Homo sapiens: one gene and its partners. The protein of the gene in region 1 purifies or fractionates together with the protein of each later gene. This does not show direct contact. Each region holds a gene or a part of one and is shown in the gene's direction. Other genes may lie near its edges. The genes, in order: NCR3, ITGAV, MSLN, MANBA, MAN2B1, MST1R and NLRP2.

Evidence for each region.
Region 2: the proteins of NCR3 (region 1) and ITGAV purify together in Homo sapiens (affinity purification with mass spectrometry; one large-scale study listed by BioGRID and IntAct). This does not show direct contact.
Region 3: the proteins of NCR3 (region 1) and MSLN purify together in Homo sapiens (affinity purification with mass spectrometry; one large-scale study listed by BioGRID and IntAct). This does not show direct contact.
Region 4: the proteins of NCR3 (region 1) and MANBA purify together in Homo sapiens (affinity purification with mass spectrometry; one large-scale study listed by BioGRID and IntAct). This does not show direct contact.
Region 5: the proteins of NCR3 (region 1) and MAN2B1 purify together in Homo sapiens (affinity purification with mass spectrometry; one large-scale study listed by BioGRID and IntAct). This does not show direct contact.
Region 6: the proteins of NCR3 (region 1) and MST1R purify together in Homo sapiens (affinity purification with mass spectrometry; one large-scale study listed by BioGRID and IntAct). This does not show direct contact.
Region 7: the proteins of NCR3 (region 1) and NLRP2 purify together in Homo sapiens (affinity purification with mass spectrometry; one large-scale study listed by BioGRID and IntAct). This does not show direct contact.

What each region holds. Positions count from the first base shown.
Region 1 is NC_000006.12:31,590,207-31,594,144, reverse strand, and holds the start of NCR3 (natural cytotoxicity triggering receptor 3 isoform a precursor), read left to right. Parts: upstream 1-1,138; 5' UTR 1,139-1,423; coding exon 1,424-1,466; intron 1,467-3,938. UniProt on the Homo sapiens protein: Cell membrane receptor of natural killer/NK cells that is activated by binding of extracellular ligands including BAG6 and NCR3LG1. Stimulates NK cells cytotoxicity toward neighboring cells producing these ligands.
Region 2 is NC_000002.12:186,679,229-186,681,401, forward strand, and holds the end of ITGAV (integrin alpha-V isoform 1 preproprotein), read left to right. Parts: 3' UTR 1-1,673; downstream 1,674-2,173.
Region 3 is NC_000016.10:763,734-766,547, forward strand, and holds part of MSLN (mesothelin isoform 1 preproprotein), read left to right. Parts: intron 1-289; coding exon 290-410; intron 411-913; coding exon 914-993; intron 994-1,173; coding exon 1,174-1,303; intron 1,304-1,376; coding exon 1,377-1,570; intron 1,571-1,793; coding exon 1,794-1,884; intron 1,885-1,957; coding exon 1,958-2,057; intron 2,058-2,325; coding exon 2,326-2,504; intron 2,505-2,601; coding exon 2,602-2,757; intron 2,758-2,814. UniProt on the Homo sapiens protein: Membrane-anchored forms may play a role in cellular adhesion. Megakaryocyte-potentiating factor (MPF) potentiates megakaryocyte colony formation in vitro.
Region 4 is NC_000004.12:102,691,469-102,694,968, reverse strand, and holds part of MANBA (beta-mannosidase precursor), read left to right. Parts: intron 1-3,500.
Region 5 is NC_000019.10:12,649,743-12,653,242, reverse strand, and holds part of MAN2B1 (lysosomal alpha-mannosidase isoform 1 precursor), read left to right. Parts: intron 1-782; coding exon 783-880; intron 881-972; coding exon 973-1,090; intron 1,091-3,020; coding exon 3,021-3,139; intron 3,140-3,228; coding exon 3,229-3,330; intron 3,331-3,500. UniProt on the Homo sapiens protein: Necessary for the catabolism of N-linked carbohydrates released during glycoprotein turnover. Cleaves all known types of alpha-mannosidic linkages.
Region 6 is NC_000003.12:49,893,874-49,897,373, reverse strand, and holds part of MST1R (macrophage-stimulating protein receptor isoform 1 preproprotein), read left to right. Parts: coding exon 1-94; intron 95-483; coding exon 484-645; intron 646-740; coding exon 741-834; intron 835-966; coding exon of another isoform or gene 967-969; coding exon 970-1,179; coding exon of another isoform or gene 1,180-1,254; exon of another isoform or gene 1,255-1,266; coding exon 1,267-1,413; coding exon of another isoform or gene 1,414-1,493; coding exon 1,494-1,659; intron 1,660-1,825; coding exon 1,826-1,927; intron 1,928-2,000; coding exon 2,001-2,207; intron 2,208-3,500. UniProt on the Homo sapiens protein: Receptor tyrosine kinase that transduces signals from the extracellular matrix into the cytoplasm by binding to MST1 ligand. Regulates many physiological processes including cell survival, migration and differentiation.
Region 7 is NC_000019.10:54,964,949-54,969,173, forward strand, and holds the start of NLRP2 (NACHT, LRR and PYD domains-containing protein 2), read left to right. Parts: upstream 1-1,425; 5' UTR 1,426-1,519; intron 1,520-4,225. UniProt on the Homo sapiens protein: Suppresses TNF- and CD40-induced NFKB1 activity at the level of the IKK complex, by inhibiting NFKBIA degradation induced by TNF. When associated with PYCARD, activates CASP1, leading to the secretion of mature pro-inflammatory cytokine IL1B.

The sequences.
Region 1 (3,938 bases):
CTGGTCTCGGACTCCTGACCTCAGGTGATCCTCCCACCTCAGCCTCCCAAAGTGCTGGGATTACAGGCATGAGCCACCACGCCCAGCTGAATGTTGTTTTCCTGCCTGCTAACATAACATCCATCCTGTAGTCCATGGTTTAAGGAGTAATTTAGACTTTCAAGTCTCATTATTTAAGAAATACATTTCGCCAGGCATGGTGACTCATGCACTTTGGGAGGCCTAAGTGGATGGATTGTTTGAGCCCAGGAGTTGGATACCGGCCTGGGCAACACAGGGAGACCCCATCTCTACAAAAAATACAAAAATTAGCCTGGTGTGGTGGTGTGCGCCTGCAGTCCCAGCTACTCAGGAGACTGAAGTGGGAGGATCAACTGAGCCCTGGAGGTTGAGGCTGCAGTGAGCCGTGATGGCGCCACTGAACTCCAGCCTGGGTGAGACAGAGCCAGACCCTGTCTCAAAAAACCAAAACAGGAATCCCAGCACTTTGGGAGGGCGAGGCTGGTGGATCACTTGAGATCAGGAGTTGGAGACCAGCCTGGCCAACATGGTAAAACCCTGTCTCTACAAAAAATACAAAATTTAGCTGGGCTTGGTGATGTGCGCCTGTAATCCCAGCTACTTGGGAGGCTGAGGCAAGAGAATTGCTTGAACCCAGGAGGCAGAGGTTGCAGTGAGCCGAGATTGTGCCACTGCATTCCAGCCTGGGCAACAGAGTGAGACTCCAGCTCAAAAAAAAAACAAAAAACAAAAAAACCCAACCAAACACACACACACACACACACACACACACACACACACACACACACACACACACAAGGTGATTGCTATGCAAATTAAATATAGCTTCACCAATCAGCTTGCTTCTCCTAATCCCTCATAGAAATCTTGGAGTAGCCCTGGGGTGCAGTGAGGCCAGATTCCAGGAAGGGAATGGGTGGGATGGGTCTGGGTACTGGTGAGCAGCAGGGAGGGTAAGTAGGTTAGCTTCTGGGCCAAGGAGGGCTCCTGGAGGCTTGTTCTGGGTAAAAGCTGGTCTCCTTGAACCTCGGAAGGTGGGGGAACCCACATCCTGGTCTCACCCGCCCAACCGCCCACTCACCCTTGGGTTAGCAGCCATCTAAGCCCCACCCTCCCCCTCACACGCTTAGCTAGCCTGCCACAAGCTGGCCCCTTGGCCTCCTAGAGACCCTGACATCTCCTCCAGCAGCATCTGTCCTCTCTCCTCAGGGAGGCAAGCATTTGATGCTCGAGGTCCCTGGCAGTTGTGGTCCTTGGCAAGTGATGTGTGAGTCCCGTGTGTCATAGGAAGCTCCCCATCCCCATCTGGTGACCAAAGGCCTGGCTACAAGTAGTGAGTCCTTCCTCCTCCACCCAGACCTCACTGCTCAGATCCCCTTCGCCAACTGGGACATCTTCCGACATGGCCTGGATGCTGTTGCTCATCTTGATCATGGTCCATCCAGGTGACAGGGCGTGCGCTCAGGACCCCAAGGAGTGTGGGTGGGAGGAGGGAGATCCAGGAGGCTGGACTAGATGCTATAGGGAACGGGCTTGGTGGGGGCTGAAACACACGGCTCTGAGGGAGGAGTGGGACTGCTCCAAAGGTGACACTCAGTGGACTCCCCCAATTCACAGTCTCTCTGTGTCACCCACTGTGAGGCTTTTTAGTTTGAGAGATCCAAGTAAATCTATGATAAATTTCTTGGTGAAACTTTTTTTTTTTTTTTTTTGAGACTGAGTCTCGCTCTGTCGCCTGGCTGGAGTGCCGTGGTGCGATTTTGGCTCACTGCAACCTCTGCCTCCCATGTTCAGGTGATTCTCCTGCCTCAGCCTCCTGAGTAGCTGGGACTACACGCACGCACGACCACACCTGGCTAATTTTTTTTTTTTTTGAGACGGAGTCTTGCTCTGTCACCTAGGCTGGAGTGCAGTGGCATGATCTTGGCTCACTGCAACCTCTGCCTCCTAGATTCAAGCAATTCTCCTGCCTCAGCCTCCTAGGTAGCTGGGATTACAAGCGCGCACCACCACACCCAACTAATTTTTGTATTTTTAGTAGAGACAGGGTTTTACCATGTTGGCCGGGCTGGTCTTGAACTCCTGACCTCAGGTGATCTGCCTGCCTCGGCCTCCTAAAGTGCGGGGATTACAGGCCTGAGCCACTGCGCCCAGCCATTTTTGTATTTTTAGTAGAGATGGGGTTTTGCTATGTTGGCCAGGTTGGTCTCAAACTCCTGATCTCAAGTGATCTGCCTGCCTCGGTCTCCCAAATTACTGGAATTATAGGCATGAGCCACTGCGCCCGCCTGGTGGTGAAACTTTTTTTTTGAGACAGTTTCATTCTGTTGTCCAGTCTAGAGTACAGTGGCGGTATCTCAGCTCACTGCAGCCTCCACCTCCTGGGTAAAAATGATTCTCCTGTCTCAGCCTCCCAAGTAGCTAGGATTACAGGTGCATGCCATTACTGCTGGCTAACTTGTGTATTTTTAGTAGAGACGAGGTTTCACCATGTTGGCCAGGCTGGTCTCAAACTCCTGACCTCAGGTGATCCACTCGCCTTGGCCTTCCAAAGTGTTGGGATTATAGGCGTGAGCCACTGCACCCGGCCGAAACTGTTTTTAATGAACTGAGAGACCTTAACTATCAGGCATATTATTAACTAAATGCAGGAGTTCTCAAAATGTGGATTTCTGGGAACCTAGAACAAATTCTTAGGCCCCACTCCAGACCTACTGAGTCAAAAACTCGGGGGGTAGGCCCAGGAATCTGTTCTAGCAGATGCTCCAGGTAATTTCCATACACACTCAAGTTTGAGAACCACTGAAATAGAATGACTTGTAAATTTCCCTAAGTAGATAATTTAATCAGGGATTTTAATATTTGGTTTAATTCATCAACATGGACGGGTTAAATAGGAATCTCAACCAATTAAGGCCACGTCTTCACCTGGAGATTTAATTAGTTACTTTCTTTAACGAAAACCAAGAGTGGCTGGGTGCACTTTGGGAGGCCGAGGCAGGTGGATCACTTGAGATCAGGAGTTTGAGACCAGCCTGGTCCGAGGTGGGTGGATCACTTGAGGTCAGGAGTTTGAGACCAGATGGTGAAACCCTGTCTCGACTGAAAATACAAAAATTAGCCAGTCGTGGTGGTGGGTGCCTGTAGTCCCAGCTACTTGGGAGGCTGAGGCACCAGGATCGCTTGAACCCAGGGGACGGAGTTTGCAGTGAGCCAAGATTGCACCACTGCATTCCAGCCTGGGCAACAGAGCAAGACCCCATCTCAAAAAAAGAAAAAAGAAAAAGAGGAAGGATGGCTTACTGTACAATGCCATTTGTACTAAAATAATACCTGGATAATATAATGAGTGATATTAGTTAACTAGGCAGCTGCATTCATTAATGAGCTTAATTTCACCATGATGGTTTACATTTCAGCTAGACAAGTTACTACTGAACTGGCTGGAGAATGATGGCAGAGGGTGAGAGTGAGAGTTGGTATAGGAAGAATTTGAAAAATGATTTTTATTTTTTATTTTTTGAGATGGAGTCTTGCTTTGTCGCCCAGGCTGGAGTGCAATGGCGCAATCTTGGCTCACTGCAACCTCTGCCTCCCGGGTTCAAGCGATTCTCCTGCCTCAGCCTCCCGAGTAGCTGGGATTACAGGTGCACACCACCATGCCCGGCTAATTTTTGTATTTTTTTAGTAGAGACGGGGTTTCACCATGTTGGCCAGGATGGTCTCGATCTCCTGACCTGGTGATCCGCCCACCTCGGCCTCCCAAAGTGCTGGGATTACAGGCGTGAGCCACTGCACCCAGCCGAAAAATGATTTAATAAGCAATGTTAAGAAATCAGATTGGTTAAGAGGGAAGGGTTTAATGAGGCACCCAAAGTATCTATTCCCATGCACCCTATGCCTGGAGAAAGCTGGGA
Region 2 (2,173 bases), on another chromosome or scaffold:
TGGATAGAAAGTCACTCTTTGGCAAAAGTGTTAGAATTTGCTTTTGTGCCATCTATTCCTTTTATGGCATCTATCTTGAAAGTAATCTTGTATTGGAGATTGAAAGATGCTGTAATTTAGAAATTAACATGATATCTTAAATTACCTTTATGAAATATAGTTTTGTATAATAGCATAGATTTTCCTTCAAAAAATGAACATTTATATATCTACAAAAATATGGAGAAGAGTAATTTGAAAGCCTACTTTCTGAAGAAAATGGTGGGATTTTTTTTTATCATGATTAAATATCAAAAAATTGCCCTATGAAAACTTTAAATCTCTAAAACATTTGAAATACTACCATATTTGTGATTTATTGAGAATAAAAATCCATTTTGAAATGTAAAATTTTTATGATCTGATTCAGTTTTAAGAAAACATGAATGAACTAGAAGATATTAAAAACATTTGACATTGGTAAGAAATATTGATACTGATATTGATTTTTATATAGGTATTTATTTCAGAATTGATATTTTGAGAAAAATACATGTGAGTCATTTTTTCTGTTTCTCTTTTCTCTTAACGATTATCACTGTAATTCTGAATCTGAAAGGTAAAACAATTAGTCAAAATATTATTGCCATCATTCTACCTGTGTTATGAAACTACTTATTCATAGTTAATTCTCATTAACACTTACATTTCCATAAAGAAAACTCAAGTATTAATAAAAGAGACTTTACTGGCTTAAGAGGGCTGTGAAAGATTTTTGATAGTGAATCATGACCCTAAGGGAGAGATTTGTGTGATAAAAGTATTGTATATAATAGATCAGCGATTTTTGTAAGGCAAACAGAATTTGTAAGTTGGCAGATCTTCCTAAGTTGCAAAATGTAATGATGAGCTTGGTGGAGAAGAATGAGTCGTTCTTGGAATACCTATGTGCAGCCACTACCCATCTCAATGTCACCTTGTTTGCATTCTTGGATAGCTTGTATATGTAGTAGTTTGATGAATAATTTAAAGAAAAACACCTAAAATTTGAAAAATGATTGTAGGATCAAAAAAGGCAGATGAAATTACTTAATACTCAGTGTTTTGGAGAGTATTCCTTTTAGTTTGTTGGTTGGCTGGTTTGAACGATAGAAATATGCAGCATGCAATATATGCTTATATTTCATTTTAATTTCTGATATATAATGAACTTCTTGGGAGAGGTACTGAATCTTTGATGTTTTTTGTCATTGTTCTCAAGTGCAATATAACAATGTAACCAAATCTAGATAATTTCAAAGTTGTCATTAATTTAGTAAGCCTAATATAAACAAATATTTGTATTATTTTTGTTAGCAGGAAAGAGTGATTAAGTGAGGTTATTTACCCCTAAATGGTCCATTCTGCATTGTATTTCAGGCTGGAAATGAATTATTCTTTACCAGTTTTGAAACACTTTGAAATATCCTAAGGTAACTTGGAAGCTGTGTAGTATATCAAATTAATTTGCTACCTAATAACATAGAAAGTAAATATCTTTGTGGTCACCCACATTGGGTGAGACAGAAAATGAATCTGTTCTAAAATTTGTAATTTGCTAACTTGATTTGAGTTAGTGAAAACTGGTACAGTGTTCTGCTTGATTTACAACATGTAACTTGTGACTGTACAATAAACATAAGCATATGGTACCACTTTTGTGTATGGGGTTTATCCTTTCTGTGACGTGTTTTTGTTTTTTGATTACATGAGCTAGCAATAATGCACTAAAAGGATGACCTCAGAGGTAACTTTCTGTAAAACTTCAAATCTTGAATGTCAGTTATTTGATGAAAAGAAACACAAAAAGAGCAAAATGTACCACATTAAAATTCATCCTTAGAAAGGCAAATATGTATTTGCCTGAAATATAAGAATTATTTTATTTCTAAACAAACATTTCTAAATTCATTATGCTAACCTTTATTATTTTTACATTATCAGATTCCTTTTAAAATGCACATTTACATCTTTTATAATTTTTAATTATAGTGTATATATGTCATTGCATATATGCAGTTGCAATATACATATGCAATTCTAGTATAAAAATACCTATTTTTATAAATGAAAAGTACCAAGAAGAAAATTAAGTGTTGAGATGCTTGGGAAATTATACTGAAGTAGCATAATACACCACCGTAAATTCCTATGG
Region 3 (2,814 bases), on another chromosome or scaffold:
GGGCCCTCGGGACTGAGGGTGGGCAGGGCACCCCATCCCCCAGCATCCCCTCCCCCTTCCTCCTCTGCTCCACCTCAGATCTGACTGGGCTCAGGACTGCGGGAGGGACTGACACCCCTCAGGTGATGGCAACTCCCGGCCCTTGAGGGCGTCACCTGGTCTTGGGGGGAGGTCTGCAGGGAGCACCAGGGTCCTTTGGGGAGAGGTGGGGCTGTGGGGCTTGGGGAGCACTGGGTGGACATTGCAGGGGAGGGGCGATCGTGGGTGCCCAGCCCGACCCTTCCTGCAGCCTCTCCCCTCGCCAACTCCTTGGCTTCCCGTGTGCGGAGGTGTCCGGCCTGAGCACGGAGCGTGTCCGGGAGCTGGCTGTGGCCTTGGCACAGAAGAATGTCAAGCTCTCAACAGAGCAGGTCAGTCTCAGTTGGGCTGAGGCAGGTGGGCACAGCTGGGGCTGAGGAATTCACAGGCAGCTCTGCAGTGCCCACCTTGCCACCACGGTCCCCTCTGTCCCTGCTGCCATCTCTCCCCGGCCAGTTCTTCCCAGAGTTCCTCTGGCCACCCAAGCTGACCACTGGGGTGCCTGTCCACGTCAGGGGCTGGCTCCCCAGGAGCAAGTCTGATATGACGCTGTGTGCTGGGCCCCCTCCTGGAGCGCCGTGGGCAGCCCTCCAGGCTCTGCCCCAAGGGTGAATCTTTTTCGGGGGAGTGGGTGAGATCTGGGGAAGGGGAGCGGAGCCAGGCACGGGAGCCCCCATCCCCCAGGGCAGCGCTGCAGGCGGCCAGAGATCCACTTCCACAGATTCTCGTGGCCAGGGCAGGGGTGTGTTGTGGTGGGCAGACTGGCCAGGCGACCCTGGCCCACCATGTGAGTGGCGGCTCGAAACGCTCTGTGCTGGACTCCCTGCCCCTGCAGCTGCGCTGTCTGGCTCACCGGCTCTCTGAGCCCCCCGAGGACCTGGACGCCCTCCCATTGGACCTGCTGCTATTCCTCAAGTAGGCCCTGCCCCCTGAACCCACCCCCCCGGCTTTTGCCGCCAGCCCTCAGCCCCCAACCCCCTGCCCCTTGCCTCGGATCCCAGGCCACAGCAGAGATGTGGAGGCCGGCCGGGCTGCCTCTCAGGGTGGGGACGGGTGTGATCAGTGCGGCCTGTCCCCAGCACCCTCTCTTCACAGCCCAGATGCGTTCTCGGGGCCCCAGGCCTGCACCCGTTTCTTCTCCCGCATCACGAAGGCCAATGTGGACCTGCTCCCGAGGGGGGCTCCCGAGCGACAGCGGCTGCTGCCTGCGGCTCTGGCCTGCTGGGTAGGGGCTGGGGCCAGCGCGGGGCGGAGAGGGCTCGGCAGTTCCAAAAGCGCTGAGGCCAGCCTCTCTGCAGGGTGTGCGGGGGTCTCTGCTGAGCGAGGCTGATGTGCGGGCTCTGGGAGGCCTGGCTTGCGACCTGCCTGGGCGCTTTGTGGCCGAGTCGGCCGAAGTGCTGCTACCCCGGCTGGTGAGCTGCCCGGGACCCCTGGACCAGGACCAGCAGGAGGCAGCCAGGGCGGCTCTGCAGGGCGGGGGACCCCCCTACGGGTAAGTGAAGGTGTCTGGAACCTCGAAGGCTCACCTGGCGGCGTGGTATCAGCAGCGTGAGGACACTTGCGGCCATGCCTCAAGGCCCAGGGTCAGTCACCCCCGCCACCACCCCTGCCAATGCCCCCAGCGTCCCCTCCACAGCCAGGGGGTACGGCCTGGCCTCTTCCCTCTCTGGGGCTGCACGTGGGGGGTCCCTGAGCTGTGTCCCGTGTCTGCACAGCCCCCCGTCGACATGGTCTGTCTCCACGATGGACGCTCTGCGGGGCCTGCTGCCCGTGCTGGGCCAGCCCATCATCCGCAGCATCCCGCAGGTGAGACCCCAATCCCCAGCCCGTGGGGATGCCCGGCCACCCGAGGCTCAGCCCAGGTCCTGCTCGTCCTCAGGGCATCGTGGCCGCGTGGCGGCAACGCTCCTCTCGGGACCCATCCTGGCGGCAGCCTGAACGGACCATCCTCCGGCCGCGGTTCCGGCGGGAAGTGGAGAGTGAGTGCCGTGCCCTGCGCAGTCTGGCACCAGGCTGGGCAGCACCCCTGGGGGTGGGCATCACTTTAGGGTCTCACCTGCCCCTCCCTGGCTCTGCAGCACATCCCATTATAATCACAGAGAGTGGACAGAATCCCTGTTTGCCAGTGGGTAAACTGAGGCACAGGGAGGGTCACAAATGGCCCGAGGTCTCATCTCACAGGAGGTGTGGGAGGAAGAAGGGGTCAAACGAACTCCGGCCCTGACCCCTGACCCCTGTGCCCTGCAGAGACAGCCTGTCCTTCAGGCAAGAAGGCCCGCGAGATAGACGAGAGCCTCATCTTCTACAAGAAGTGGGAGCTGGAAGCCTGCGTGGATGCGGCCCTGCTGGCCACCCAGATGGACCGCGTGAACGCCATCCCCTTCACCTACGAGCAGCTGGACGTCCTAAAGCATAAACTGGATGAGGTAGTTCATGACTCAAGTTCCCACCGGCCTGCTGTGTCCAAGCCATCCCCAGCCCCTCTGGGAGTGACATGGGCCCTCCTGGTCTCTTGGCCTGCAGCTCTACCCACAAGGTTACCCCGAGTCTGTGATCCAGCACCTGGGCTACCTCTTCCTCAAGATGAGCCCTGAGGACATTCGCAAGTGGAATGTGACGTCCCTGGAGACCCTGAAGGCTTTGCTTGAAGTCAACAAAGGGCACGAAATGAGTCCTCAGGTGACCGTCCGGCTCGGGGGTCATGTGGCATGAGATTGGGAAGGGCTGAGGGGCAGA
Region 4 (3,500 bases), on another chromosome or scaffold:
CAGAACCACATTCTCTACCATCCTCTGGGTTGCCTTCCTGATTGAGGTTATATGAACAAACTGTAGAACATAATCTCTTCTGCTTGGGCTTAGGACATCAGCGAGGACACCAATAAGCCTTCAGGCCAGGGAGGGCCTCAAGGCCTTGAATTGTGGAGAGGGCAGGCCAGCATTGCCTTTGCACCTGTTTTGATAAAGAATTCCTGTCCTCTTTGTGCTGAGTTGTTTAGTCAAAGTGAAGAGAGGATGCAGAACTTGGTGGTGTGATTGGAAGGATGAGCTCTGTAGGGGATTCTAGAAGATGTAGCAATCCTTCTTTCCTGCCCTCACCCCCAGTACTTCATCCATTTTTGAAGTGATCTTGCATTTTACTTCAGGAGAGCTGGTGATGATAAGTGTTCTTCAAGACATGGTGACTTATTAATGCTAGGAGAGAGATGATAGGAAGCTGTATTCTAGAAATGGGGCTTAATTTATAAGATGGAGTTCTTCTTAACTACAAATAGGATTATGCAATTTATAAATTTAATTTAGCAAGTGAAAAGGAGTGACCAAAGAACATCAGGAAAACTACTGGTTATTTAAGACTTTGCGCCTTGTGAACCTAAATTACCTACTTTTCCATGTGCTACTGGAAGGAAGGGGTTTACTCTATTTGAAAGAAGAGGAGAGGGGAAAAATATGTTATTAAGTATATCTGGTGATAACTTTGTAGGCTTGTAGATCTTCATACTGTGTTTTTAATTCTACAACCTTAGTTTTTTCATTTAGTAGTTCCCAGGGGTGTTAACGGGTGATGCTCTGGAGGAGTGCGGACTTGCTCGAGAACCTTCCAAGTTCAAAGCAAGAGAAACTGGGGAATTTTGCCGATGACCTTTGAGGATTGCATTATTTGTTTTCCTGTCAGAGGCTGTCACTAACAGCTGATTCTCCTACTAAAGAAGAAGTAACAGAAAACAACACAGGAGCCTGCTTCGTTGGTAGGAGGTGCTCAAAGGACAGAGCTAAAATCTTTAGTTGGATATTAAGGAGAAGTATATTTCAAATTCAGTGTAAAGGGAGTCTTTACAATAGCCAAGCCTGGCAAAAATGGGAAGGCTATTTTGTGAGGCAGAGGTTTTTTTGTCATTAGAGATATTTAAAGAAAGGTTGGAATGGCCTTTTTTGGGGGTAATATTCTAGGGCAGGGATTAGCAAACTTTTTCTCTTAAGGATCACATAGTAAAATAGTTTAGGCATCTGTCACAACTACTCAACTCTACTGTTGTATTGCAAAGGTAACCAAAGACAATAAGTAAACAAATGAGCATGACTATTAAGTTAGTCTGCTCTGGCTGCCCTAAGAAAATACCATAGGCAGAGTGGCTTAAATAACAGAAGTTTATTTCTCGTAGTTCTGGCAGCTGGGAAGTCCGAGATAAAGGTGTTGGCCCATTTGGTTTCCAGTGAGGGCTCGTTTCCTGGCTTGCAGACAGATGCCTTCTTGCTATGTCCTCACATAGTAGAGAGAGAGACGGATATCTGTTTCTTCCTCTTCTTATAAGGCTGCAATCCTAACAGATTACTGCCCCACCCTTATTACTTCATAAAAAGCTGGAGGTTAGGGCTTCAACATAAGAATTTTAGGGGAAGAGTCCACCATTTAGTCCATAACATCTGTGTTCCAATAAAAGTTTATTTATAAAAACAAGAGGTGGGCTAGATTTGTCCCAAAGACCATAGTTTGACAACCTATTGAATAGAGGAAATTAAACACTGGTGAGCGAGCAGACTAGGTGATCTACCAGCTGATAGATTCAAAACCTGGAGGCTATCGGTAAGTAACCTGCAAAATTAACTGGATCAGAACAAACCTAACTCAGAGCTCATCGACTAGTATTTCTCAGAATAAATCACTTAATAAACAAAAATAGTTCTTAAGTCCAGGATTAATTTTACTTCAATGTGCATCAAATCTATGCTTTTGGCTGATGGGAGATGCGAATGATAAACTGTGCTGGGGTCATCTTTAGAACAGGCCTGGTGTGCTCCTACAGTTGTAAACAGTGCCGGTTATAACGTCTTTTGTCATTGATCAGCATAGAAACCTAGCTTTTTTTTTTTTCTTTTGCAGCAAAGCCATGATTATTAATCTCTTCTTTATTTGTAGGAGAAAGGTCTCTAAGATACTTCTCAGCTAGTAGCCTTCCCCCTCCCCTTCCTTTGGAGAAAAATAGAAGCCACTAAATAGGAACTCCCTCCATACTTTGCCACGAATCATAGAAACTTAAATGCCTCTGCACAGTCACTGCTCTTCTCCTTTCTTTCTGTGGCAGCAAAGAATGAGAACTTTTTTTGCTGACTCTAACCCCCTGTACCTCCAAGCTTTTTTGAGATCTCATGACCAGTTTCTTCTGCGTAACTTTAAAAAACGGTCTGTTTTTCCACCCAGCTCTTGTCCCAAGTCTGTCCCAGTGCTCTATCTTGTTTAAAAATAAAAACTAAACACAAAACCAAACCCGGAGACATTATACAAACAATATAAATTTGACAGGAAATGGAGGACAGAGTCATACTGCGCGTATATAAAACTCTACTTCAAAACCTCTTCGAAACATTCTGACAACCCCAAACTCTGCACCCAAAGTTCATCCCTCATCTTTCTTCTTTCCCTATAATTCTCCTCTTCGGTCTTGTTTTCTCTTCTTTCTGATCAACACTCTTCTTTGCCTCCTCTCTGTTCCTGGCTTTTCCAAGTGGCATTTTCTGGGGCTTTTTGTACACAGAGAGATTTTATATCTTTCTGCTTCTTTCATATTCATCCTTGTATATCACTGTGCTGGGACCTTTAGCAATTCTTATAAAATGCAGATCTGGTCATGCTCTTTGATGAAAAATCTTCAATGACTCCGCATTGATCTGGGGTGAAATTGCCAGACTCCTTACCTGTTCGAAAAGACCCAGTGTCATTTGGACCGTGCTCAACTTTTCAATTATGCTGACCCCCTCATCAATTTTGTTATTGCCCAAGTTCCTTGTTTTCCTTGTTATGGCATTGCTGTCTCACTCATGGGCCTTCACATGCTTCTCTGTGCCCAGAATCCTTATCATCTTCCTCTGTACTTAGCTGAGGCATCCTTCTGGTCTCAGCTAGATACCACTTTCTAATGAAAGCATTCCTTGGCCAGGCATGGTGGCTCATGCCTATAATCCCAGTGCTTTGGGAGGTAGAGGCTGGAGGATTGCTTGAGGCCAGGAGTTCAAGACTAACCTGGACAACAAAGTGAGACCTCATCTTTACAAAAAGTAAAAAGAAAATTAGCTAGGTGAGTGGCACATGCCTATAGTGCCAGCTGCTCAGAAGGCTGAGGCAGGAGGATTGCTTGAGCCCAGGAGTTCAAAGCTACAGTGAGCTATGATTGTGTGACTCCCGGGGCAACAGAGTGAGAACCTGTGTCAAAAAAAAAAAAAAAAAGGAAAAAGAAAAGAGAGAAAGCCTTCCTTCACCCTCTCTGTATTAG
Region 5 (3,500 bases), on another chromosome or scaffold:
CCCGGGAGGCGGAGGTTGCAGTGAGCCAAGATCACGCCACTTTCTGCACTCCAGCCTGGGCGATAGAGCGAGACTCAGTCTCAAAAAAAAAAAAAAAACAAAAAACCCAGGCCAGGTGCAGTGGCTCACGCCTGTAATCCCAGCCCTTTGGGAGGCCAAGGCGGGTGGATTACCTGAGGTCAGGAGTTGGAGACCAGCCTGACCAACATGGCGAAACCCCGTCTCTACTAAAAATACAAAAATTAGCCAGGCATGGTGGCATGTGCCTGTAATCCCAGCTACCCAGGAGGCTGAGGCAGGAGAATTGCTGGAACCCAGGGGCAGAGGCTGTAGTGAGCAGAGATTGCGCCCCTGCACTCCAGCCTGGGCGACACAGCAAGTTTCTGTCTCAAAAAAAAAAAATAAAAATCCGGCTGGGCACAGTGGCTTATGTCTGTAATCCTAGTACTTTGGGAGGCCAAGGTGAGCAGATCACTTGAGTTCAGGGGTTTGAGACCAGCCTGGCCAACATGGTGAAACCCTGTCTCTACTAAAAATATGAAAATTAGCCAGGCGGGGTGGTGGGCACCTGTAATCCCAGCTACTTGGATAGCTGAGGCACGAGAATCACTTGAACCCGGGAGGTGGGGGGTGCAGTGAGCCAAGATTGCACCACTGTACTCTAGCCTGGGCTACAGAGTGAGACTCAGTCTCAAAAAAAAAAAAAGAAAAAAGAAAAATTAAAAAAAGAAAACACACACACATACACACACAAACCCATCTGTGGACCCTTTTCTGCCCAGCACATCCGGGCAACGTTTGATCCTGACACAGGGCTGTTGATGGAGATTATGAACATGAATCAGCAACTCCTGCTGCCTGTTCGCCAGACCTTCTTCTGGTAAGGGAAGATCACCAGGCCTGAGGGTGGGGTGGTGGTGCTCGGCATGGAGCTAGGGCCCCTTACCTGACTCTCACCTGCCCCAACTCCAGGTACAACGCCAGTATAGGTGACAACGAAAGTGACCAGGCCTCAGGTGCCTACATCTTCAGACCCAACCAACAGAAACCGCTGCCTGTGAGCCGCTGGGCTCAGATCCACCTGGTGAAGGTCAGGGACTAGGAATGATGAGTGGGCAGTTGGGAATGGGGAAGTTATGGAGCCCAAGAGGGTGGTGGGCCATGTGTAGAGTGAGGGTAGGGGAGGATTTACTTTTCCTTCAGATCAGTGGGCTAAGACCCACAGATCAGCGGGGGAAATATTTGAGGGTCCTTCCATAGAATTGATATTCATAGCTGGTCGTATGAGAGTCTCCCCATAGGACACATCATACAAAGCCATTCACATCTGCTGTGGACGTTTACATACTTAGTTTTGGAAATTGGGGGTGGGGCATTCCCACTTGGCCCATGAATCAGGAGAGCCAAATATCACTGCTTGAAGAATTCACCAAAGTCTGTAGTAAGAGGAGCTTCTATCTGGAGTGAATATTTGAGAGTCCACCCTTGGATTGATTGGGTTTGGGTGAGTCTCAGGGTGAATGCCTATGGGTGCATCTGGCTAGGAACAGTGGTTTCCCAGGGCCTCTCATTGATGTTTGACTTTCATAGATGACAAAACTCACATTTGTCCACATTCAAGAGCCTCGCGTTTCATGTGAGTCCCTTTGAGATGAATGTCTGCATATCTGTATATAGTTTTGCCTGTTCTAACAGAGTTACCCAAATTAACTGTGACTAGAATAAGATAGAAGATTATTTTCTTCTAACAAAAAGTCTGGCTGTTAGTCCAGAGAAAGTGGGGTGGTTCCATAATCACCCAGGACCTCCTCTTCTATCTTGTTGCTCTGCCTTCCCCAATATTCAGTTTCCACCTCATGGTCCAAGATAGCTGCTGAAGCTCCAGCCGCCACATTTGTGTTTGAGTCAGTAGCAGAGGGACAGGGGCAAGGAACATTGTTGACACCACTTGGATCACTTTCTATGGGGCAAACTGGTCACTCAGCTACTGATAGCCTCAGGGAAGACTGGACAATATAGTCTTTATCCCAGGTAGCCATGTGCCAAGCTAGAATCCTATTCTATGGGGCAATGGTGAACAGGAGGCGTTTATGCCACGCTCAAGAGTGATGTGGTAAGCCAGATGCAGTGGCTCATGCCTGTAATCACAGCACTTTGGGAGACTGAAGCAGGAGGATCGCTGAGCATAGGAGTTCAAGACCAGGTGGGAGCATTTGCTGATTAGGTGCCTACATAGTGATGCCCTGTCTCAAAAAAAAAAAAAAAAAAAGAGGCCGGGTGCAGTGGCTCACGCCTGTAATCCCAGCACTTTGCGAGGCAGAGGCAGGCAGATCATCTGAGGTCAGGAGTTCAAGACAAGTCTGGCCAACATGGATAGAAACCCCGTCTCTACTAAAAATACAAAAATTAGCCAGGGGTGGTGGCAGGTACCTGCAATCCCTCTACTCGGGAGGCTGAGGCAGGAGAATTGCTTGAACCCAGGAGGCGGAGGTTGCAGTGAGGCAAGATTGTGCCACTGCACTCCATCCTGGGCAACAAGAGCAAAACTCTGTCTCAAAAAAAAAAAAAGAAAAAAGAATTATGTGGGCCAGGCGCGGTGGCTCACGCCTGTAATCCCAGCACTTTGGGAGGCCGAGGCGGGCTGATCACGAGGTCAGGAGATCGAGACCATCCTTGCTAACACGGTGAAACCCCATCTCTACTAAAAATACAAAAAATTAGCCGGGTGTGGTGGCGGGTGCCTGTAGTCCCAGCTACTCGGGAGGCTGAGGCAGGAGAATGGTGTGAACCCGGGAGGCGGAGCTTGCAGTGAGCCGAGATCGCGCCACTGCACTCCCGCCTGGGCAAAAGAGCGAGACTCCGTCTCAAAAAAAAAAAAAAAAAAAGAATTATGTGGCGGTGACTGAAGGTTGACCTTGATGTAGGCCTTAATGGGGTTTATGGCCAGGGTTGGGGGACATTTGTAGGACTCACCTCTGCTCAGGTACAGACTGACATCCACCTCACCCGTGTGCCCGCAGACACCCTTGGTGCAGGAGGTGCACCAGAACTTCTCAGCTTGGTGTTCCCAGGTGGTTCGCCTGTACCCAGGACAGCGGCACCTGGAGCTAGAGTGGTCGGTGGGGCCGATACCTGTGGGGTGAGTGGCACAGGCTGGGAGAGGGGTGTGGAAGCAAGGGCAGAGGGGTTTATCCAAGGCTCACAACCTTGCCATCCCATTGGGTACAGCGACACCTGGGGGAAGGAGGTCATCAGCCGTTTTGACACACCGCTGGAGACAAAGGGACGCTTCTACACAGACAGCAATGGCCGGGAGATCCTGGAGAGGAGGTGGGGGGTGACTGAGAGCACTGAGGGGGTGGTCTGTGGTGTGTTGGGGCCCAGGGGTGGTGAGGGAAATTTGCTGATTACATGAGTGTGGGAGACAGAGGACGAAGGGAGAGTGAAGGGCGGGGGAGCCAGGCAGGGTGCAGTGGCTCACGCCTGTAATCCCAGCACTT
Region 6 (3,500 bases), on another chromosome or scaffold:
CAGGAGGCACCTGTCTCACTCTTGAAGGCCAGAGTCTGTCTGTAGGCACCAGCCGGGCTGTGCTGGTCAATGGGACTGAGTGTCTGCTAGCACGGTAAGTACCACCAGGCAGGCATGGGAGGCCGCAGGGTTCTATCCAGGTGGGGACCCGGATTCTGTCAGGATGGAGGGAAGAGTGCTTGTTACATGGTCAGTGTGGTGTGGAGAGCAGGTCCAGGAAGAAAAGACTACTGCCCTCTTCAGCCCAGAGGCAAGAGAGCCCATCACAGAGTCCAATGGCTCCAGCCAAGGCTGTGGGGAACCTGTTCCCTCCTTACCCTCTTGGGATGTCTTCCTGGGACCACCTTATTTTCAGACAGACCATGGAGTGGGGCAGGTGGGAGAGATAACAGACGAACTGGGAGAGGTCAACAGGCCCCTGGAAGAAGTGGGCCTGGCCATCACAAAGAGGGTAACCTTGAGCCCAATCTCTTGTTCCTGTAGGGTCAGTGAGGGGCAGCTTTTATGTGCCACACCCCCTGGGGCCACGGTGGCCAGTGTCCCCCTTAGCCTGCAGGTGGGGGGTGCCCAGGTACCTGGTTCCTGGACCTTCCAGTACAGAGAAGACCCTGTCGTGCTAAGCATCAGCCCCAACTGTGGCTACATGTAAGCACTGCCTCTTTGCCCACTCTGGCCTCTGGGGAATGAGAGAGCCAGCTTTGGAGAACACCCAAAGCCTACCACCCTACCCTCTTCCACAGCAACTCCCACATCACCATCTGTGGCCAGCATCTAACTTCAGCATGGCACTTAGTGCTGTCATTCCATGACGGGCTTAGGGCAGTGGAAAGCAGGGTGAGTGAGTGCTGGCCAGGAGGGAGGAAGGCTGGATGAGTTCCCTGAGCTGCAGCCCAACCTCGTGCTGGGCTGAGGCGAGGAGCAATCACAGGTGGGGTTCCTGGCTAATCACTCTCATATTGGTCCCAGCAGTGTGAGAGGCAGCTTCCAGAGCAGCAGCTGTGCCGCCTTCCTGAATATGTGGTCCGAGACCCCCAGGGATGGGTGGCAGGGAATCTGAGTGCCCGAGGGGATGGAGCTGCTGGCTTTACACTGCCTGGCTTTCGCTTCCTACCCCCACCCCATCCACCCAGTGCCAACCTAGTTCCACTGAAGCCTGAGGAGCATGCCATTAAGTTTGAGGTAAGTGTAAGGGATAGGGGCAGGGACAGTTGGGGATCTGAAAGTAGGGGCCAGCCTACTGGCTGGTCCTCATGACCCTCTCTGCAGTATATTGGGCTGGGCGCTGTGGCTGACTGTGTGGGTATCAACGTGACCGTGGGTGGTGAGAGCTGCCAGCACGAGTTCCGGGGGGACATGGTTGTCTGCCCCCTGCCCCCATCCCTGCAGCTTGGCCAGGATGGTGCCCCATTGCAGGTAGGCAGCCCAGCTGGACCTCCCTGGGAAACACGGGCAGAGGGCCTACAGGCTGGGCCTGAGTTGCCACCTGCCCCCAGGTCTGCGTAGATGGTGAATGTCATATCCTGGGTAGAGTGGTGCGGCCAGGGCCAGATGGGGTCCCACAGAGCACGCTCCTTGGTATCCTGCTGCCTTTGCTGCTGCTTGTGGCTGCACTGGCGACTGCACTGGTCTTCAGCTACTGGTGGCGGAGGAAGCAGCTAGGTGAGTTCTCTGCTCCTACCTTTAATCAGCCCCTACCCCCAACCAATGGCATCTTCAAGTCCCTACATCCTCTCTCTGCCCAGGACTTAGGGATCTAAGTCCTCCCCAGAGGGGTCGGCCCCTAGGAGCTTGGAAAGCCAAGCCACCAAGGATTCTCTTTCCACAGTTCTTCCTCCCAACCTGAATGACCTGGCATCCCTGGACCAGACTGCTGGAGCCACACCCCTGCCTATTCTGTACTCGGGCTCTGACTACAGAAGTGGCCTTGGTGAGATAGTGGAGGCATGAGAAGCTAAAGCCACCCCCTGTCCCTACAAGCTCCTCATTCCCTCTCCCCACAGCACTCCCTGCCATTGATGGTCTGGATTCCACCACTTGTGTCCATGGAGCATCCTTCTCCGATAGTGAAGATGAATCCTGTGTGCCACTGCTGCGGAAAGAGTCCATCCAGCTAAGGGACCTGGACTCTGCGCTCTTGGCTGAGGTCAAGGATGTGCTGATTCCCCATGAGCGGGTGGTCACCCACAGTGACCGAGTCATTGGCAAAGGTGTGGGGGCCAGGTGGGGCTGGGGCAGAGATGGAGTCTCAAGATGACATAGGCTAGGCCAGGCGTGGTGGCTCACTCCTGTAATCCCAGCACTTTGGGAGGCCGAGGCGGGCAGATCATGAGGTCAGGAGATCGAGACCGTCCTGGCTAACACAGTGAAACCCCGTCTCTACTAAAAATACAAAAAAATATTAGCCAGCCATGGTGGCAGGCGCCTGTAGTCCCAGCTACTTGGGAGGCTGAGGCAGGAGAATGGCATGAACTCGGGAGGCGGAGCTTGCAGTGAGCCAAGATTGCACCACTGCACTCCAGCCTGGGCGACAGAGCGAGACTCCTTCTCAAAAAAAAAAAAAATGACATGGGCTAAAGGGACAGTTGGAACAGATACTGCTCTAACCTTCTCACCAACCTGTGTGACCTTGGGTATACCACTTAACCTCTCTGAGCCTCCATTTGCTCATCTGTAAAATGGGGATGAGAAAAGTTCTGTCTTCAGTGGGTTCTGGTGTGGATCAATCAGGCATAGGAAGATTGTAGCCTCTGCCATCAAGTGGCTGCTGTTTGTTTTTGGTTTTATTTATGGTTTTGTTTTTGTTTTTGTGACAGGGTCTCACTCTGTTACCCAGGCTGGAGTGCAATGGCACAATCATGGCTCACTGCAGCCTCGACCTCCCCAGCCTCAGGTGATCCTCCTGCCTCAGCCTCCTGAGTAGCTGGGATTACAATCATGCACCACCATGCCTGGCTAATTTTTTGTTTATTTTTTGTAGAGATGGGCCTCGAATCATGTTGTCCAGGCTGGCCTCGAACTCCTGGACTCAAGCAATCTGCCTGCCTAACCTTCCCAAAGTGCTGGGATTACAGGCATGAGCCACCGAACCCAGCCTGTTTTATTATATTTATTTTATTTTATTTTTATTTTTATTCTATTTTATTATTATTATTTTTTTTGAGACAGAATTTCACTCTTGTTGCCCAGGCTGGAGTGCAATGGCGCGATCTCGGCTCATTGCAACCTCCTCCTCCCGGGTTCAAGTGATTCTCCTGTCTCAGCTTCCTGAGTAGCTAGGATTACAGGCGCCTGCCACAACACCCGGCTAATTTTTAGTATTTTTGGTAGAGATAGGATTTCACCATGTTGGCCAGGCCGGTCTCGAACTCCTGACCTCAGGTGATCCGCCCGCCTCAGCCTCCCAAAGTGCTAGGATTACAGGCATGAGCCACTGCCCCCAGCCTATTTTATTTTATTTTATTTTTTTTTTTTTTTTGAGAGGGAGTCTCACTCTTTCACCC
Region 7 (4,225 bases), on another chromosome or scaffold:
CCTGGGGTGATGGGAGAAGGTAGCCAATCACAGCTGAGGCTTCTAAGCGGTGATTCTCAGCCTCGGCCGCAATCACAATTATCTGGGACTCTCGAAAGAACTCCAGGGTCTGGGCAGTCCCAGTGTAACCAATCAAGCAGAATCTCTAGGCGTTCGTGCTTTGAAATGAGGCTCCACATAGGTAAGTTTAACAGGCAGTCAAGATGGAGGACCACAGGTGGAGATCGGGAAGCTCAGGTGAAGGACCGCCCCCCAACACCCCCCGCCCCCAAAAGACCTCTCAGTAATTCCGGTGGATACAGGAAGTGCTCAGCAACGATTACGCCCCGAGGGCCAATCACAGGGCTGCGGCCGAGAAAGAAGCCTTAATAGAGCTTTCTCAACCTGCAGCCCTCATCTCCGCCGGCGAGTAGGGCCAGGTGTTGGGAGGTGAGTAGCTCTCCGGCAGCTCTGCAACTTCATTTCTTTATTTCTCCATTCCACAGTTGGTAAAATTTCTCCTTTTATTTCATATATTTTTTTTCTGAGACGGAGTCTCGCTCTGTCGCCCAGGCTGGAGTGCAGTGGCGCGATCTCTGCTCACTGCAAGCTCCGCCTCCCGGGTTCACGCCATTCTCCTGCCTCAGCCTCCCGAGTAGCTGGGACTACAGGCGCCCGCCACCACGCCCGGCTAATTTTTTGTATTTTTAGTAGGTGGCTCACGCCTGTAATCCCAGCACTTTAGGAGGCTGAGGCTGGCAGATCACCTGAGGTCGGGAGTTTGAGACCAGCCTGGCCAGCATGGCAAAACCCCGTCTCTATTGAAAAAAATACAAAAATTAACCAGGCGTTGTGGCGCATGCTTGTAATCTCAGCTACTCGGGAGGCTGAGGCAGGGGAATCACTTGAAGCCGGCAGGCGGAGGCTGCGGGGAGCCGAGATCGTGCCGTTGCACTCCAGCCTGGGGAACAGAGCAAGACTCCATTAAAAATAAAATAATAATAATACTGTGAATGTGAAACTGATGAACTTGGTGCTTTTCATGCGTCTCATAGTTGACGTGTCATTGATATTTCACTTGAAATACGGTTGGATTTTTATTAATAATATACCTGGGGTGATGGGAGAAGGTAGCCAATCACAGCTGAGGCTTCTAAGCGGTGATTCTCAGCCTCGGCCGCAATCACAGTTATCTGGGACTCTCGAAAGAACTCCAGGGTCTGGGCAGTCCCAGTGTAACCAATCAAGCAGAATCTCTAGGCGTTCGTGCTTTGAAATGAGGCTCCACATAGGTAAGTTTAACAGGCAGTCAAGATGGAGGACCACAGGTGGAGATCCGGAAGCTCAGGTGAAGGACCGCCCCCCAACACCCCCCGCCCCCAAAAGACCTCTCAGTAATTCCGGTGGATACAGGAAGTGCTCAGCAACGATTACGCCCCGAGGGCCAATCACAGGGCTGCGGCCGAGAGAGAAGCCTTATTAGAGCTTTCTCAACCTGCAGCCCTCATCTCCGCCGGCGAGTAGGGCCAGGTGTTGGGAGGTGAGTAGCTCTCCGGCAGCTCTGCAACTTCATTTCTTTATTTCTCCATTCCACAGTTGGTAAAATTTCTCCTTTTATTTCATATATTTTTTTTCTGAGACGGAGTCTCGCTCTGTCGCCCAGGCTGGAGTGCGGTGGCGCGATCTCGGCTCACTGCAAGCTCCGCCTCCCGGGTTCAGGCCATTCTCCTGCCTCAGCCTCCCGAGTAGCTGAGACTACAGGCACCTGCCACTATGCCCAGCTAATTTTTTTGTATTTTTAGTAGAGACGGGGTTTCACCATGTTGGCCAGGCTGGTCTCAGTCCGCCTCGGCCTCCCAAGGTGCCGGGATTACAGGCGTGAGCCACCGCGCCCAGCCTTTTTTTTTTTTTTTTTTTTTTTTTTCTTCTCTTTTTTGAGGGTCTTACTCTGTTTCCCAGGCTGGAGCGCTGTGGCAGGATCTCGGCTCACTGAACCCTTGACCTCTCAGGTTCAAGCAGTCCTCACGCCTCAGCCTTTGAAGTAGCTGGGACCGTGGGAGGGTGCCACCACATCTGTTCTGGCTAATAATATTATTATTACCACTGTTTGCAGAGACTCACTAGATGTAGGGTCTTAATATGTTGCCGAAGCTGGTCTCTAACTCCTGGGCTCAAGCGATCTTCCTGCCTCAGACTCCCAAAATTCTGGGATTATAGGCAGGTGCCACCGCGCCCGGCCTAAATCTTTTCTTCTGTTAGAAATTAAGTGGTTCTGCCTGTCTCAGTGGCTCACGCCTGTAATCGCAGCGCTTTGGGAGGCCGAGGCGGGAGGATCACCTGAGGTCGGGAGTTCGAGACCAGCCTGACCAACATGTAGAAACCCCATCTCTACTAAAAATATAAAATTAGGTGGGCGTGGTAGCGCATACTTGTAATCCTAGCTACTCAGGAGGCTGAGGCAGGAGAATCACTTGAACCCGGGAAGCGGAGGTTGCGGGGAGCCTAGATCATACCATTGCTCTCCAGCCTGCGCAGCAAGAGAGAAACTGTCTCAAAAAATAAAATAAAATAAAATTCAGTGGTTCTGACTGGGGAAAGAGTAGCAGATGCTTAGATCTAGAGAGACTCTAGTTAAGGTTGGCTCATAAGAGGATAGTTGTGTGTGCTTTTATTTCTGTTCTCTTGGGGGATTTAGGATAGAGCTATAGAGAGCTCCAAAAAAAAAAATATATTGGAACAGGTCAGATGCTGTGGTTGCTGTGTGTGGAGTCCTGGGCAGTGCTAAGGTTTTGTGTCTAATGAGTCCTCTTAACAAGAAGGTATTGTTTTTTATTCACTGAGGTGAGGGAGCCTCTTAGCATCATTCTAGTCCAGCTTCCGGACCTGAGTCTTATGCAAATACCTATGCCAGTTGCCATTCTCACGCTATTCACAGCTATCATATAAAGAGGTGTTATACCCTTTCTGTAAAGTTTTTGTTGCTACTGCTATTTTTTTTTTTTTTTTTTTGAGACAAAGTCTAGCTCTGTTTCCCAGGCTGGAGTACAGTGGCGCTATCTCAGCTCACTGCAACTTCCACCTCCCAGGTTCAAGCAATTCTCGTGCCTCAGCCTTCTAAGTAGCTGGGACTACAGCCGCCTGTCACCAACCTGGCTAATTTTCGTATTTTTAGTCGATATAGGGTTTCACTATGTTGGCCAGGCTGGTCTCAAGCTCCAGACCTCAGGTGATCCTCCCACCTTGGACTCCCAAAGTGCTGTGATTACAGGCGTGAGCCACCGCACCCGGCCCTGTTGTTTTTAAAATAGAGACAGGGTCTTAAGTTGCCAGGCTGGTCTGGAACTTCTGGACTGGAGTGATCACCCACCTGAGCTTCCCAAAGTGCGGGGATTGCAAGCGTCAGCCACCACCCCCAGTGTTGTGTTTTTGTTTGTTTTACCAGGCTGGAGTGCAGTGGTGCGATCACAGCTCACTGCAGCCTTAACTTCCCTGGCTCAGGTGATCCTCCCACCTCAGCCTCCTCAGTAGCTGGGACTACAGGTGCATGCCACTATGCCCAGCACAATTTTTTTTTTTTTTGTATTTTTTTGTAGAGACAGGGTTTTGCCATGTTGCCCAGGCTGGTCTCAAACTCCAAGCAATCCTCCCACCTTGGCTTCCCAAAGTGTTTGGGGTTCCAGGTGTGAGCCATGGCCCCCCGGCCAGCTTCAGTAAAGTAAAAGCCACACACCTGTGTCCTGAGACCAGGCTCCACCACTAAGTTATCTTTAAGCCTTTTTTTTTTTTGAGACAGTTTCACTCTTGTCGCCCCAGGCTGGAGTGCAGTGGCGCCATGTCAGCTCACCACAACCTCTGCCTCCCACTCCCAGGTTCAAGCGATTCTCCTGCCTCAGCCTCCCAAGTAGCTGGAACTACAGGCACCTGCCACCACGCCCGGCTAATTTTTTGTATTTTTAGTAGAGACGGGGTTTCACTGTGTTAGCCAGGATGGTCTCGATCTCCTGACCTCACGATCCGCCCGCCTCGGCCTCCCAAAGTGCTGGGATTGCAGGCGTGAGCCACCGCGCCCGGCTGTGTGTTTGCATTATCATATTCAGCCCAGTTTTCACGAAGTTTCTTGTCTCCTGGGTGATCCACGTAGCTCCCCACTTCCTTATCTGATCTATGCTTGTCCTTTCATTGTTGTGTTACTACTTTGCTATAATGAGAGAGTGTTTTCGCTTTATAGGTTAACTTTTAGAACCTG